4 linked regions of the Homo sapiens genome follow. The protein of the gene in region 2 interacts with the protein of the main gene of each other region in a biochemical or structural test. Each region holds a gene or a part of one and is shown on either strand. Other genes may lie near its edges.

Evidence for each region. Proteins that work in one complex are often made in the same cells at the same time.
Region 1: the proteins of RAD51 (region 2) and SUMO1 form a complex in vitro, tested with the Homo sapiens proteins (2 studies listed by BioGRID and IntAct).
Region 3: the proteins of RAD51 (region 2) and SEM1 form a complex in vitro, tested with the Homo sapiens proteins (2 studies listed by BioGRID).
Region 4: the proteins of RAD51 (region 2) and EVL form a complex in vitro, tested with the Homo sapiens proteins (2 studies listed by BioGRID and IntAct).

The regions. Positions count from the first base shown.
Region 1 is NC_000002.12:202,214,246-202,218,097, forward strand, and holds part of SUMO1 (small ubiquitin-related modifier 1 isoform a precursor), read right to left. Parts: intron 190-3,852; coding exon 112-189; intron 1-111. UniProt on the Homo sapiens protein: Ubiquitin-like protein that can be covalently attached to proteins as a monomer or a lysine-linked polymer.
Region 2 is NC_000015.10:40,715,344-40,719,549, forward strand, and holds part of RAD51 (DNA repair protein RAD51 homolog 1), read left to right. Parts: intron 1-3,461; coding exon 3,462-3,556; intron 3,557-4,206.
Region 3 is NC_000007.14:96,687,910-96,690,554, forward strand, and holds the end of SEM1 (26S proteasome complex subunit SEM1), read right to left. Parts: intron 1,058-2,645; coding exon 1,015-1,057; 3' UTR 853-1,014; downstream 1-852. UniProt on the Homo sapiens protein: Component of the 26S proteasome, a multiprotein complex involved in the ATP-dependent degradation of ubiquitinated proteins.
Region 4 is NC_000014.9:100,134,922-100,138,773, reverse strand, and holds part of EVL (ena/VASP-like protein), read right to left. Parts: exon of another isoform or gene 2,876-3,852; intron 2,870-2,875; coding exon 2,806-2,869; intron 1,197-2,805; coding exon 1,130-1,196; intron 1,035-1,129; coding exon 972-1,034; exon of another isoform or gene 1-971. UniProt on the Homo sapiens protein: Ena/VASP proteins are actin-associated proteins involved in a range of processes dependent on cytoskeleton remodeling and cell polarity such as axon guidance and lamellipodial and filopodial dynamics in migrating cells.

The DNA.
Region 1 (3,852 bases), on a different chromosome or scaffold from region 2:
TTGAGTTGCTAATGGTGAAAATAATAAAACAGGATTTTTCTTCTGACAATCTTCTATAAAAAAAAAAAAATTAACGACAAAGCATTGTACTTAATACCAAAATGGACGAACCTGTCTTTGACAGTATGATTCTTTGAGTTTCTTGAGATGTGTTGTCATTTTCACTTTGAAGTGAATCTCACTGCTATCCTAAGGAGATAAAAAAGAAAAAAATTATCCCTCTTTGTATAAATCATTTGCTTTACTTGAACCAAACTATTTAATTACACATATAGTGCAAATAGAAACATAAACCTTGTAACCTGTATTTTTCCACCACAATATTCTTTTTAGCATTCTTAACAGGTTTTCTTAAAACAGTGTAATCATCCTCAAAGTTACTGTATACCCATTACAAAAGAAACCGAGTAAAACAAAGTTAATCAGTCTTGAGTGTTAAAATTATCAGTATAAGTAAAAGTCTAAGTAAATGCATTCCTTCATTTGCCATTCTATTGTCAAAATAAAAGATGAACTATCGCATCTTTTATTTATCCCAATAGCAACTCAAAACAAAAAGTCTGTCCCCCCAAGTGAAGTGTCACTGAAGGTGGTCGCCTAGGAGAAAAGCAGTTAATTAGATAATAATTAATTGTATAAAATTCAATTTTATACAATAAGCGACTGAGAAATTTATTCCTGCCATAAAAAATCACCACATGGGGCTGAGCGCAGTGGCTCATGCCTGTAATCCCAGCAATTTGGGAGACCAAGGCAGGCGGATCACAAGGTCAGGAGTTCAAGACCAGCCTGGCCAGTATAGTGAAACCCCGTCTCTACTAAAAATACAAAAATTAGCCAGGCATGGTGGCACACACCTGTAGTCCCAGCTACTCAGGAGGCTGAGGCAGAAGAATTGCTTGAACCCAGGAGGTGTAGGTTGCAGTGAGCCAAGAACACGCCACTGCACTCCAGCCTGGGAAACAGAACAGTACTCCATCTCAAAAAAAAAAAAAAAAAAAAAATCACCACATGGAATCTGGTTTCTCTCACATGAGTAAAATGAGTAAGAACCTGAGTTAGTCAAACTGATTTGTGAGACCAAAAATTATTTTATTCTGCTCAGATTGTGAAACAAACTATCAGCCAGCCAATCCTCAGAAAAAATACTGTTACTTGCATAATGTAAACTTTCAAAGCCAAACTTCATGACTACATATCACATTCACAAATGTGTATTTGCAGAAGCTGCACATTTACAGTATTTTTCTTGTGACTGTAACTATGAAGAAATAAAATTATCTTCACATAGATCATTTCATAAACAGATAAAATTCTACAGCAAACCTCATGCTATACATTAAAATCAATTCCAGGCTGGGCATGGTGGCTCATGCCTATAATCCCAACACTTTGGGAGGCCAAAGCAGGAGGATCATTTGAGTTCAGGAGTTCGAGACCAGCCTGACCAACATGGTGAACGCCATTTCTACTAAAAATACAAAAAAATTAGCCAGGCGTGGTGGCGCATGCCTGTAATCCCAGCTACTCGGGAGGGTGAGGCAGGAGAATCGCTTGAACCCAGGACGCGGAGGCTGCAGTGAACCTAGATCTCGCCACTGTACTCCAGCCTGGGCAACAGAGTGAGACGCCATCTCAAAAAAAAAAAAAAAAAATCACTTGCAGATGAATTAAAGAGCTAACATTAAAATTTTTTTGGCCAGGTGCAGTGGCTCACTCCTGTAATCCCAACACTTTGGGAGGTCAAGCCGGGCAGATCACGAGGTCAGGAGTTCAAGACCAGCCTGGCCAACATGATGAAACCCTATCTCTACTAAAAATATAAAAAATTAGCCGGGTGTGGTGACAGTTGCATGTAATCCCAACTACTCGGGAGGCTGAGGCAGGAGAAGTGCTTGAACCTGGGAGGCGGATGTTGCAGTGAGCCGGAAGTACCACTGCACTCCAGCCTGCATGACAGGACAAGGCTCCACATCAAAAAAAAAAAAAAAAAAATTCTCAATATTTTCCCCTCAAGGGAGAATTTTTTTCCCCTAATTTTGGCCTTGGGATGCCCTATTGCAAAGCATGATTTTAACCTAGAAACCATAAAAAAAAGAGGTGGATAAATTTGACTTAATAAAAACATAAAACGTCTGTATAGTAAAAGATGCCATAAACAAAAGTTAAGACATACTGGAGGAAATATTCATAACATGTAACAGACAAGGAAAATGAAGACAATATTTTTAAAAATCCCACAAATTAATAATTCTTAAAAAGACATTCCATGGCATATGGACATATAGATAGATCAATGGCATAAAATTGAGAGCCAAGAAAAAACCCTTATATCTATAGTCAATTTTTTGACAAGGATACCAGAACAATTCAGTGAGAAAAGGACAGTCTTTTCAACTAATGGTCTGGGACAAACACCCATAAAAAATTATTCAAAATGATGAAAGATTTAAATGTAAGAGCTAAAACTATAAATAAAACCATAAAACTTTTTTTTTTTTTTTTTTGAGACAGGGTCTCACTCTGTCACCCAGACTGGAGTACAGTCACGTGATCACAGCTTACTGCAGCCTTGACCTCCCAGGCTCAAGTGATTCTCCCTGCTCAGCCTCCTGAGTAGCTGGGACTACAGGCATGTGCCACCACGCCCTACTAATTTTTTATATTTTTTGTAGAGATGGGGTTTCGCCATGTTGCCCAGGCTGGTCTCCAGCTCCTGAGCTCAAGCAATCTGCCCACCTTGGCCTCCCAAAATGCTGAGATTACAGGTGTGAGCCATTGTGCCCAGCCTTAAAACTCTTAAACCACAAGCGTAAACCTTTGTGACCCTGGATTAGGTAATGGTTTCTTAGATAAATTACAAGCAACAAAAGAAAAAACAGATGAACTTAATTTACCAAAATTAAAAACTTTACGCTGCAAAGAATAAAACCAAGAAAGTGAAAAGACAACTCAAAGATAGGAGAAAATCCATGCAAATCATATATATGATAAAGGTCTAATACCCAGAATAAAAGACATATTACCACTCAACAATAAAAAGACAACTAACCCAATTTAAAAATGGGCAAAAGATCTAAAGAACTTCATTTTTCCAAAGAAGATGTACTAATGGCCAATAAGTACATAAAAAAATGCTTGGCATCATTAGCCATCAGGAAAGAGCAAGTTGAAACCACAGTGAGATACCACTTCACACCCACTAGGATTATAACCAAAAATACGGATAATTACAAGTGTTGACCAGAATATGGAAAAACTGAAACCCTCATATGTTGCTGCTAGGAATGTAAGATGGTAGGGCCACTGCTGAAAACAGTTTGGCAGTTCCTCAAAAAGTAAAACATATAGTTGCATACTAGACCCAGCAATTCCACTCCTAGGTATATATCCAAGGGAGCTGAAAACATATGTCCATACAAAAACACACATGAATGTTCACAGCAACATTATTAATAGTAGCCAAAATATGGGGACAAACTAAATATCAACTGATAAATGGAAAACAAAATATATTCTACCCATATAATGGAACAGAATTCAGCCATTAAAAGGAATATAGTACTGATACATGCTACAGCATGAATGAACCTTGAAAACATGCTAAAACAAAGAAGCCAGGCCAGGCATAGTGGCTCACACCTATAATCCCAGAACTTTAGGCCAAAGAGGGAGAATCACTTAAGCCCAAGAGTTCAAGACCAGCCTGAGCAACATAGCGAGAACCCTGGAGAGGGAGACGGGGATGGGGAGGGGGGGAGGGGAGGGAGGGGAAGAGGAACAGGGAAGCAAGGCAGAAAAGAAGAAACAAACCAGAATAAAAAGTCACATATCAAAGCTAGGCATGGTGGC
Region 2 (4,206 bases):
GATTCTGTCTCAAAAAAAAACCAAAAACCAAAAAACCACAAAACAAAAAAATCACATACCCTTTGACAGAAAATTTGTCTTACAGAACATTTCACATATATGCAAAGATAAATGTACAAATAATTTATACCAAAGCATAATTAAAATGGTAAAAGTTAGAAACATACTGCATCACTATAAAATGAGAAGTGTTAAATTATGCTCCTAAGCAGTTATTAAGAAGAGCTAACCTGATGGTATCCCAATCCAGTAACAGAAGATGGCTATGATGGCACTGGGAGGGCAAGGTAGAAAGGGCCAAATAAGCTGGAGAACAGAGCATGCAATCCATCCCCATGATCTTACCCTGGGAGCTTGTCCACTATCCTGTTGTCAGTCTACCTACCTATTCCCAATCATCTGTGGCCTTTCCTTTGCCAAGGAAGTCTATTCAATTGGAAAAGAATCCCCTGTCATGTTAGCACTTAATATTACCTGGAGGTAGGAGAAAGGAGAACTTCGTTCATCTTATTTCCTGGGGACTTAGTCCCCAGAGTGTTAATATTTCCTCCTCTCCAAGAAACTGAGGCAGATTCTGCTCTCTGTCCTCTTGGCCACTGGTTCCAAGTCTTTCTTTAGGCATGACCCTCTTTTGTTGTATATGTGTCCTTTGCTCCTTCCATGGATTCCCATGATGTGAGAGATTTTATCTGCCAAATAGTAACGTAATTTTTCCCTTCCAAATTAACAAAGCCTTCCGTAACTGTATACACTAAAGTCAGTGCCCTAAAGGTTGGGAAAATCATGTCTTCAGAGTGTACCGTGCTAAACGCTTTACATGAATTATTTTATTTAGTTTTTAAAACAATCCCATAAGGTCGGTTTTATTTACATTTTACAGAAAAGGAAACAATATTCTCAGTCACATAGTAAGTGGAAGAACCACTTATATAAAAGAAGTATATGAAAATGCATAGAAAATAATCTGGGAAATTATTTCTGGGAGATGGAGAGTGGTGAAGAGCTTTCAGTTTTTTCTCCGCCACTTCCTCTTTTTTTTTTTAGACAAAGTCTCACTCTGTCACCCAAACTGGAGTGCAGTGGCATGATATCGCTCACTGCACCCTCCGCCTCCCAGGTTCAAGTGATTCTTGTGCCCCAGCCTCCCGAGTAGCTGGGATTACAGGTGTGCACCACCACGCCCCACTAATTTTTGTATTTTTAGTAGAGACAGGGTTTCACCATTTTGGCCAGGCTGGTCTCGAACTCCTGACCTCAGGTGATCCACTCGCTGGGATTACAGGTGTGAGCCCCCATGCCTGGCCTCTCTACTTCTTTTTTTTTTTTTTTTTTTTTGAGATGGAATCTCGCTCTGTCACCCAGGCTGGAGTGTAGTGGCACGATCTCGGCTCACTGCAAGCTCTGCCTCCCAGGTTCACGCCATTCTCCTGCCTCAGCCTCCCAAGTAGTTGGGACTACAGGTGGCCGCCACCACGCCCGGCTAATTTTTTGTATTTTTAGTAGAGACAAGGTTTTACCATGTTAGCCAGGATGGTCTCGGTCTCCTGACCTCAGGTGATCCACCTGCTTCGGCCTCCCAAAGTGCTGGGATTACAGGCGTTAGCCACTGCGCCTGGCCTCCGGCCCTCTACTTTTATATTGTTTAGATTTTTAATATAAGCATATAGTTGTTTTGTAATTTCAAAAAAAAATTCTCAAAGATAAGAAAGAAAATTTGGGCTGGGTGCAGTGGCTCACGCCTCCCAGCACTTTGGGAGGCCAAGGTGGGTGAATCACCTTAGGTCAGGAGTTAAAGACCAGCCTGACCAACGTGGAGAAACCCCATTTTTACTAAAAAATGCAAAATTAGCCGGGCGTGGTGGTGCATGCCTGAAATCCCAGCTACTTGGGAGGCTGAGGGAGGAGAATCCCTTGAACCCGGGAGGCAGAGGTTGTGGTGAGGCAAGATCATGCCATTGCACTCCAGCCTGGGCAACAAGAGCGAAACTCCGTCTCAGAAAAAAAAGAAAGAAAAAATTTGGTTCTCCTAGGCCTTTAACATAAAATGTTCTAAAGGATTTTCCTCATAATTTAAATGGGAATTATGACTCCAAAGTAGATTTCTAGAGTAGAAATTACCCTTTAGCATCATTCACTTAAACTTTGTAGAAAAATTCAAAGGTATCTGGTATGGAATGGGTAGTCTAAAGCAGAGATTTCCTTGAGTGGCTCATAAGACAGTTTTCATGGCATTTCATTTACTTCTCTTTTCTTTCCTTTTTGTTTTCTCTTTAAAATTCTTTCTACTTATTTTTCTGTTTTCTCCAATTGTTCATTTTAAACATCTTGTTTATACTATTGGAGTAAATATGTTTTTTTCTTCTTTCTTGCTCACACTCGAAATTTGCTATAGACACTCCGAGGGCATTGACTAGTCCCTTTAGTACCCCTAAAGAATGAACTGCTCAATAAAGTGAAGTATAAGTTTGATATAGACATGCTAAAATTAACTGGGCTTTGGATCATGGCCCATTATTGATTAAAGCTAAGGTAAATGGTCTTCCAAGTTTCTGTACTTTTGAATTGATCAGTCTTGTGTTGGTATGCAGTTCTAGAATTTTATTACTGGCCAGGTGTGGTGGCTCACGCCTGTAATCCCAGCACTTTAAGAGGCCGAGGCGGGCAGATCACTTGAGTCCAGGAGTTCAAGACCAGCCTGGGCAATGTGGCAAAACCCTATCTATAAAAAAATTTAATCGGGTGTGGTGGTGCACACCTATGGTCTCAGCTATTTGGGAGGTGAGATGGGAGGATCTCCAGAGCCCGGAAGGCAGAGGTTGCAGTGAGCCAAGATTGCACCACTGCACTCCAGCCTGGGCGGCGGAGTGAGACCCTGTCTCCAAAACAAAAAAAGGCCAGGTGCAGTGGCTCGTGCCTATAATCCCAACACTTTGGGAGGCCAAGGCAGGCAGATCACCTGAGGTCAGGAGTTCAAGACCAGCCTAGCCAACTTGGTGAAACCCTGTTTCTACTAAAAATACAAAAATTAGCTGGGCGTGGTGGCATGGACCTTTAATCTCAACAACTCAGGAGGCTGAGGCAGGAGAGTTGCTTGAACCCAGGAGGTGGAGGTTGCAGTGAACCGAGATAACGCCACTGCACTCCAGCCTGGGCAACAGTGAGACTATCGCAAGAAAAAAAAAAAAAAGAAGAAAAGAATTTTATTACCTACTTTGGGCTATATTTCTAAGCAGTCCAGTTCTGACAGGACTAGCTGTATGTACTGAGACACAATCAGCTTTACATATTTTTCTAGCTGTATTTCTATTAATATCAGAAGGGAATGCCTCCTTCCTACCACTGTCATTTTTAAATGTTTTTTTCCCTTTGCCTTGGAGGAATTATAAAGATGTCATGAGGAGCTTGGTCAGCTGTATCAGAAATACAATGTTCATTTCTACTGTTGTTTTTGTTCTCTATAGCTTCCCATTGACCGGGGTGGAGGTGAAGGAAAGGCCATGTACATTGACACTGAGGGTACCTTTAGGCCAGAACGGCTGCTGGCAGTGGCTGAGAGGTAGGTTACTGGTTTAGATAAGAGAGACTATGGCTACACTTATCAATGTAGTGATTGCCAGGGTTAGTTTGGCCGAAGAATGTCTCTTCTATAACCCCACGTCCCAAAGTTGTATGTGTGGTTCAAAAGAATGACTTCCTTAGTAGAAAAAGGCATTCTTTTTTTTTTTTTTCTTCAGATGGAGTCTCGCTCTTGTCACCCAGGCTAGAGTGCGGTGGCGTGATCTCAGGTCACTGCAACCTCTGCCTCCCGGGTTCAAGCAACTCTCCCACCTCAGCCTTCCTAGTAGCTGGGATTACAGGCGCACACCACCACACCCAGCTAATTTTTTGTATTTTTAGTAGAGATGGGGTTTCACCATATTGGCCAGGCTGGTCTCAGACTCCTGACCTCAGGTGATCCACCTGCCTTGACTTCCCAAAGTGCTGGGATTACAGGTGTGAGCCACCGCACCCGGCCAGAAAAAGGCATTCTTTAGAGTTGCTGTCAGACTGGATTTAAAAAAAAAAAATCCAACTATATGTTTTCTTCCAGAGAAACCCTTTAGAAAGTAAAAGAATGGAGAAAGATATTGCATGCAAATAGTAACCATAAGAGACACTGCGTGGCTATACTAATATCAGACAAAGTACACTTTAAGGCAGACACAT
Region 3 (2,645 bases), on a different chromosome or scaffold from region 2:
TTATGCTTGTCTTAAAAACAGAAACATATTTATGCTCAAAATCATTTTGAAGTATAACTTGTATTTCAGGCCACCAACCCCTATTTTGGTATCTGCACTGCATTGTTACATAAATTTTACATTTGAAATTACTCAACACTACAGATTGATTGTAGTTCTTAGTAACAACATTTACATTTGAAAATATTCCTAAAAAATACCCCGTACATTTAAGTCATCACAAAGAATCCTTTACAAACCAAATTAAATCTCCCATTCACAAAAGTGATGTGGCAACAGCTATCACTCTGTGAAAACTCAGTTGTACTAAATGAGCCTGCTATGTAGTACCTGAAAATATGCACTTGTTGATAAAGTATCTTGAGCCCACTTCCTCAATTTTAATAGAAGACACCATTCTTACTGTGATTAAACTACTTTGGACTTTAAGTACCAATAATACGCTAACAACCATTAATAATATTATTAATGGCTCAGGAACTAAGTAAATTACAGCAATTTAAAATGATTAATATTTTTAAAACACAGGTTTTGAAAGGTCACCTTATAAATGTCAGCAAATGTTGCCTAAGCTATCAAAATACAGAAGAGATTAAGGTTCAATGTGATGTAAAAGAAATTCCTTATAAAATAGAAGTAACAATTAATTGATGTGGTTTAAGAAAAGTACTGAATTGGGAATCAGGTGAAATCTACTCCAGATCATTTAACCTGAGCCTCACTCAGTTAACATTAAAAAAAAAAAAGAAAATTTCATAATATGAAATTTTACTATCTATATATAATAAGGTTTTGGAAAATCATGACAAGAAAATTGATTAGAAGCAAAAGATTAAGACTTCTGAACCAAACCAAGATTATATCAAAACATTTATTTTTTGTGTTACAAAAACACAAATAAATCCAAGCAGATAATGAAATAAACACATTTTTTTAGTGTCCCATCCTGGGTTCTCTGCCCTAGAATGTATTAAGCAGGTCAAGTTTAGGTTACTTCAACACTTCTTCTGGATGCTATGAAGTCTCCATCTTATAACCATGTTTCTCTAGTTCAGCTCTAAGATAAAACAGAAAGAACATCACTAGGTATTCTTTATAATAAACATTCTTTTAGAAACAATACAATAAATAAACAAATAAATGAGCTATGCCTGAGACATCAATTTACAATACCACTGAATAGTTTTACTTTTGTCTCTGAAAAAAAAACATAAGAAAATTGGATATGAGTCAATATAATACTATAAAATTTTGTTTTTCCCATTATTTAACTTGTATTTTATCTTCCTTAATTTTCTTATAAGTCTATTTGTGGAAGAAATGTGAGGGACTTACTGCTATCCTTCAAATACTTTCCAAATGCTATATGAATGTTCTGTTCCTAATAAATATTTAAACATAAGTTTTGAGACTCATTAACCTCAGGCAAAGTACACATCACTATCAAACCTTTAGGGATTTTACAATGATCATAACAGGTATTACTATATTACTGTTGTATATGCAGAAAGAATAAACAGATTGCTTTCCATATTGACATATATGTATTGCTCTAACCTTATTTGCCACAATTCAAAGTTTATGACAAAATTAGTAGATGGCTAATCCATGATAAAACACTGAGTAAACTTAAAGTATGATTAATATGCTTTACATCATTACATCCAATAAGATAGACATTTGTTCTCAAGTAAATTTGGCTTAGACACCACTACACTATTCCAATGCAAACACATGACCGGAATAATGTATAGTATTTAGCATTCATTTCTCAAAACTCCTTTGCTTTCCTAAAATTTTTAGTTATTTAGAATACAAATAGTGAGCTAATTTCCATAAATTATATCAAGGCCACAGATTGTTCAAATGAATCATCCTTGTCTTCTGCTATGGGGTGGTGGTATAAACCCTGGATTAGGAGTCAAGACTCCAGTGCAAGACTCTGACTCTGGCCCTTCCTTTGCTAACTAATTTGCTTCCTTTGGGCCCTTCCCCTGCCCCTCAGGAAACTGGAGATTATAGTATCTGCCCTTCATTTATAACAACTTATCTCCATTGTTTTGAGAGCTAAATGAGAGAAAGTTATACAAATGTAATGTAGTATACATTAAAATAAGAGTCAAGGCTGAAAGGAAAAGCTAAAAGATTCTGATGATCACAGAAAACTCAAATGTTTCATACAAAAACTCTTGCTGCCAATCTTGAGGGAATGTGGTAACTGTCTTTGAATTTTATCTCATGTTAAAATTTTATAATTTATTTAAAATAAAAGTAATTTTACAACTTTCTTAAACCTTAGTTTTCTACTCTGTAGAATATTCACTTTAACAGCAGCAACAAAAACAATGAACAAAAAAACCCCAAAGTTCAACCTACAATTTAAGTAACAAGTATACCAAATCTGTCCTTCAGGTTTGTGTCTATTGGCTTTCCTAATGGGAGGTGGCTGGTCACTAACTGCATGTATAAATTGTTTACAATCACAAACAAGATGATGAAATGCTCTTCTATCAGCTAAATTCTTAGAAAAGATGAAAAATTCTTTGCTAGAATTTAAAAAACCAAAAGAAAAAAATTGAGGCCACCAAGTACAAAACAAAAACACTAATAATCATGAGGCTGCTGAGTGGAAAAATCAACAAAGA
Region 4 (3,852 bases), on a different chromosome or scaffold from region 2:
CCCTTCCACCATGTGGCCCTGCACCCTGTCCAGAGCACCCCTCAGGACCACAGTGGCCTTGTTCACACGGTGCTCTTTGCAGGCAGGGACTGTCCCCAGCACACGGCCTGGCTGACCACAAGCCTTGGACAAACCCCAGCTGACTGCTAAGACTTCCTCATCTCTGTCCACCTGCACTGCTCTGCTCTCACCACCTGTTCAGCTCTGCAAGGCCAGTTTCAATGCCTCCTGCTCTGTGATAAGGGTGGTTTCCCTTCAATTTGTGGTGGCGATGGAGACATTCTTGACGCAGGTTCTAGAGGCCTTCCAATTCAGGCCACATGTACCTCCAGATACTATGTGGCTGGCTGCCTCTGCCTTTTTGGGCAATCTCAGTTCCAAATATTCTATCATGTTGTCATGCCAGCTTTTGGCTTGGGAAATATGGTCAGTATGTCTGTGGGGAAACTGATTCTGTGTGCCGGCCGCAGAGGAAGGACTCTGGGCTGGAGGAAAGGGGTAGGGCTCAGCGCCAGTGCTAGGACTGGTTGAACTGTAGGGTGCAGCCCTGGCTAGTGACCACACCCCATGTCCAGCTGTTGCTCACAGCTGTCCCCACCACCACCCTGTGCAGCAGGGGTTAACAGACCTCACTTTGTGGGGGGAAAACAGAGGCTTGGAGAGGTCCCCTAACTTGCCCACTGTCACACGTAGTGAGTCCAGAGCTGGGACTCCATGTTGGCCCCCCCCTGCACTACCTCTGTGGACAGGTCACTGCCCTCCTTGCCCTTGGTCTCTCTCTCAGAGGGAAAAGACGGAGCAGCTGACTGACAGGACCCCGAGGTCCTGGGTCTGAAAGAACAGACCACCTTCGCAGAGCAAGTTGTTAAATGCCAGGACGTGAGACAGCGTGCAAGGGTGTTAGTCACGGGACGGGGGACAGAGGAGCCCCAAACCCTGGGGGACATGTGAGCAGGAGGGTTGTTCGGTACCTAGAGTGAGGCTGCGACTGAAGGGGGCTCTTAGCTTCGGGGCTCTTTGCCACAGACGGGGTTCTACGGCAATGGAATGAAACAGACATGTGAATCGGCGCCAGCGCCCGCCTCTGCCCCACCAGCCTCGCTGCTCAGGCCTTCCTGGGGCAGCTCACCTGGACAGAATCGAGGACACAGGCTTCTCCACCGAGTTGCTCCGCTCCCAGGGCTTCCGGCCAGCCTCTGTCAGTTCATTTCATGGATGAAGAACCTCACAGGTGAAGGGACTCAGTAGCCACCCCAATCCCCTAAACACCCCAACAGGAAGCCCTCACCCATGCCAAGGGTGCAGAGCCCCGTGGCAGGAAGGTCTGATTGAGTTAAGCCAAAACCTGGCACCTTGTTCTCAGTCCCCCATGGCCTAGGTCAGGTTGACCCTGACCTGTGATCTGGTTCTGAGCCCTTCACTGTGCCAGGTCTCTCTGGAATGTGAGCCTGCTGGTAAGGGACCCAGTGACTAGAGCCACAGGGCGAGCAAGCACGACCTCCCCGGACATCCCAGCACAGCCTTGCTCCCACGTGTGGTGTGGCGGCCAGGCCCCTCGGCCCGGCACCTGCTACTGAGGGGCTCCTTAGTCTGCCTCCCATGCTGCGCCTGGCTCTGTCCCATTCTGGCTGGCTTGTCTTTTTTAAGTGGTATTGGATTATATTTTGTTCTACTCCAAAAGATTTGTTGCATTAACTTGAATTCGTTGACTGTGCAGGACAAGCAGAGGCAGAAGACAAAATCTCTAGGGGGTAGTGGGGCAGCTGCCTGGCCCAGAGCTAAGCCTTGGCACCCTGCGGACCAACGGTGGGATTGAGGCAGTTTTCCTCAAAGCCACCTTCTGGGACAGGCGCTGGGCCTGCAGGCACTAGACCTGGGGCTACAGACATGTCCCAGGTGTGTGGCCTTGAGCAAACCACTTTGCACACAGATGGGAACCACGTAGCCCACTCACTGGGCTGTTGGAAGAAGCAAACAGGGCAGGGGTATTGATCACGTTCATCAGCCAGGAACCTATGCATCCTGGCAAATCAAGACACCAGGCAAAAATCTTAGGAGGAGAGGACATGGCGTGCAGTTTCACAGGGAGGCGACACCCAACCTGAGCATGCCCCAGAGACACACGCGAACAGCTGGCAAGAGCCTCCTCTGCCCAGCTAGGGCAGCCTGATGCCCCTGTCTCTCCTCGCTGTGCTCATGAGCACAGGCCTGGCACAGAGCAGGTGCTGCAAAGATGTTTGTCGAATGAACAACCAACCCTGGGGTCTTCCTCCCCTGCGAAGCCTCATCATACTCTCCTAACTACCTCCCATCTGCCACAGCTTAGACAGAGAGAAACCTGAGCCAGGGAAGGGGCTGCGTTTTGGGTGGAGCGAGATCTACTGCCATCTCTGTAATGTCGGTCATCAGCTGGCGTTTCACTGGGAGACATGAGTCCTGACACTGATACCTCTTAAGAGCACTGGCCCCAGCCTGCCTCAGGAGCCCTGGACACAAACTCCCACCCTGAATATGTGCCGTCAGGCAAGTGCCTTCTCTCGTGCGGGACTCAGGGTCCTGGTGGGAAGGTGACACGCAGGTCACCCTGGGGACCCATCACAGTGGCTCTGCTCTAGCACTTCCTGTGCTCCCACATGGGCTCCTGGGGGAGGCTCTGGGGGACCCATAAGAAATGGGCTTCCCTGTGGCCTGGCCCTCTGCTCAGGCATACTAAAGAGGCTGGATCAGAGGGTCCTGTCCGAAGGGTCCCCCCTCCCACTCTGAGACCTCATGCCTCACTGGGGTCAGCGGGGGGCGCCCTCTCACCTGAGGAGTTAGGTGGCTGGCTGGCTGCTCGGGTCCCCGGAGAGGGGGAGGTACTAGGATCTTCCTAAAATGGAGAAGAAGGGAGTCTGTTTAGGAAGGCCACCTGGGGCCAGGGCAGGACATCATTGGACACTTCATAAAACCTCAGTTTTCCAAATGTTCCCAATGAACACATATGACTTTTATAATTAGCAAAACATTAAATATTTAAAAGTGAAAACGCAAAATCTCAGTGGGGAGAGAATCGAGCCAGTGGACAAAGCTGGGGAAGGGGAAGGCTACAGGGAGCTACAGGCTCTCAGCAGGGTGATATAGAACTTCCTTCTGGCCCTCAACACCCGCAAGCCCTGAGCCCCCCTTGGGCCGGATGCCTCCCGTATGTCATCTCACTGACTTCTCATGAGCACCCCGTGGACTGGCCTGCTCCCCCTGTGCAGCACACACACCTGCCCGTGTAATAGGTCTGTGGCAGTGCTCGAACAGTGGACGTGTTCATCCAGCAGTGGGGACACCTAACACTCATCATGCATGGCATGTGCGTCAGGATGGTTTTTCAGCATCAGGAACATGCCACTGATTAAGTAATAAGAGTAATCCTTCCACTTGATGAAGCAGAATGCACAGCATTTGAGCTGTTGACAGGCGGCCACCCAACCTGATGTGTCATTCTGATCTGAAGCAAAGAACCTCTCCCTTGTCACCGTGGGCAGAGGTCTTTGCTTTGTCTCCTCTGCTCACTACATCCCCACACGAGAATCAGGAACGCCCTGCGTATCTGTGTGGTGAACGAGTAAGTCCCGGGAGGCTCTGGTCGAGAGGCAAAAGCAGGTGCCAGCCTGCAGGTGCTGGGATGAGGTTCTCAGGCCTCCTCATTTTAAAGACAGCTGAATAACAGATTATGTCAATCAACACACACATGTGGGGGCCACGATGAAAGCGATACAGGGTGACATCAGAGTCACTAAAAAATTATCATCTTTTCTTGTATGTTATTTTTTTAAAACCCTCCCTGCTTAAAAGGGAAGTTATGCTTTGACTCTAGGCTGG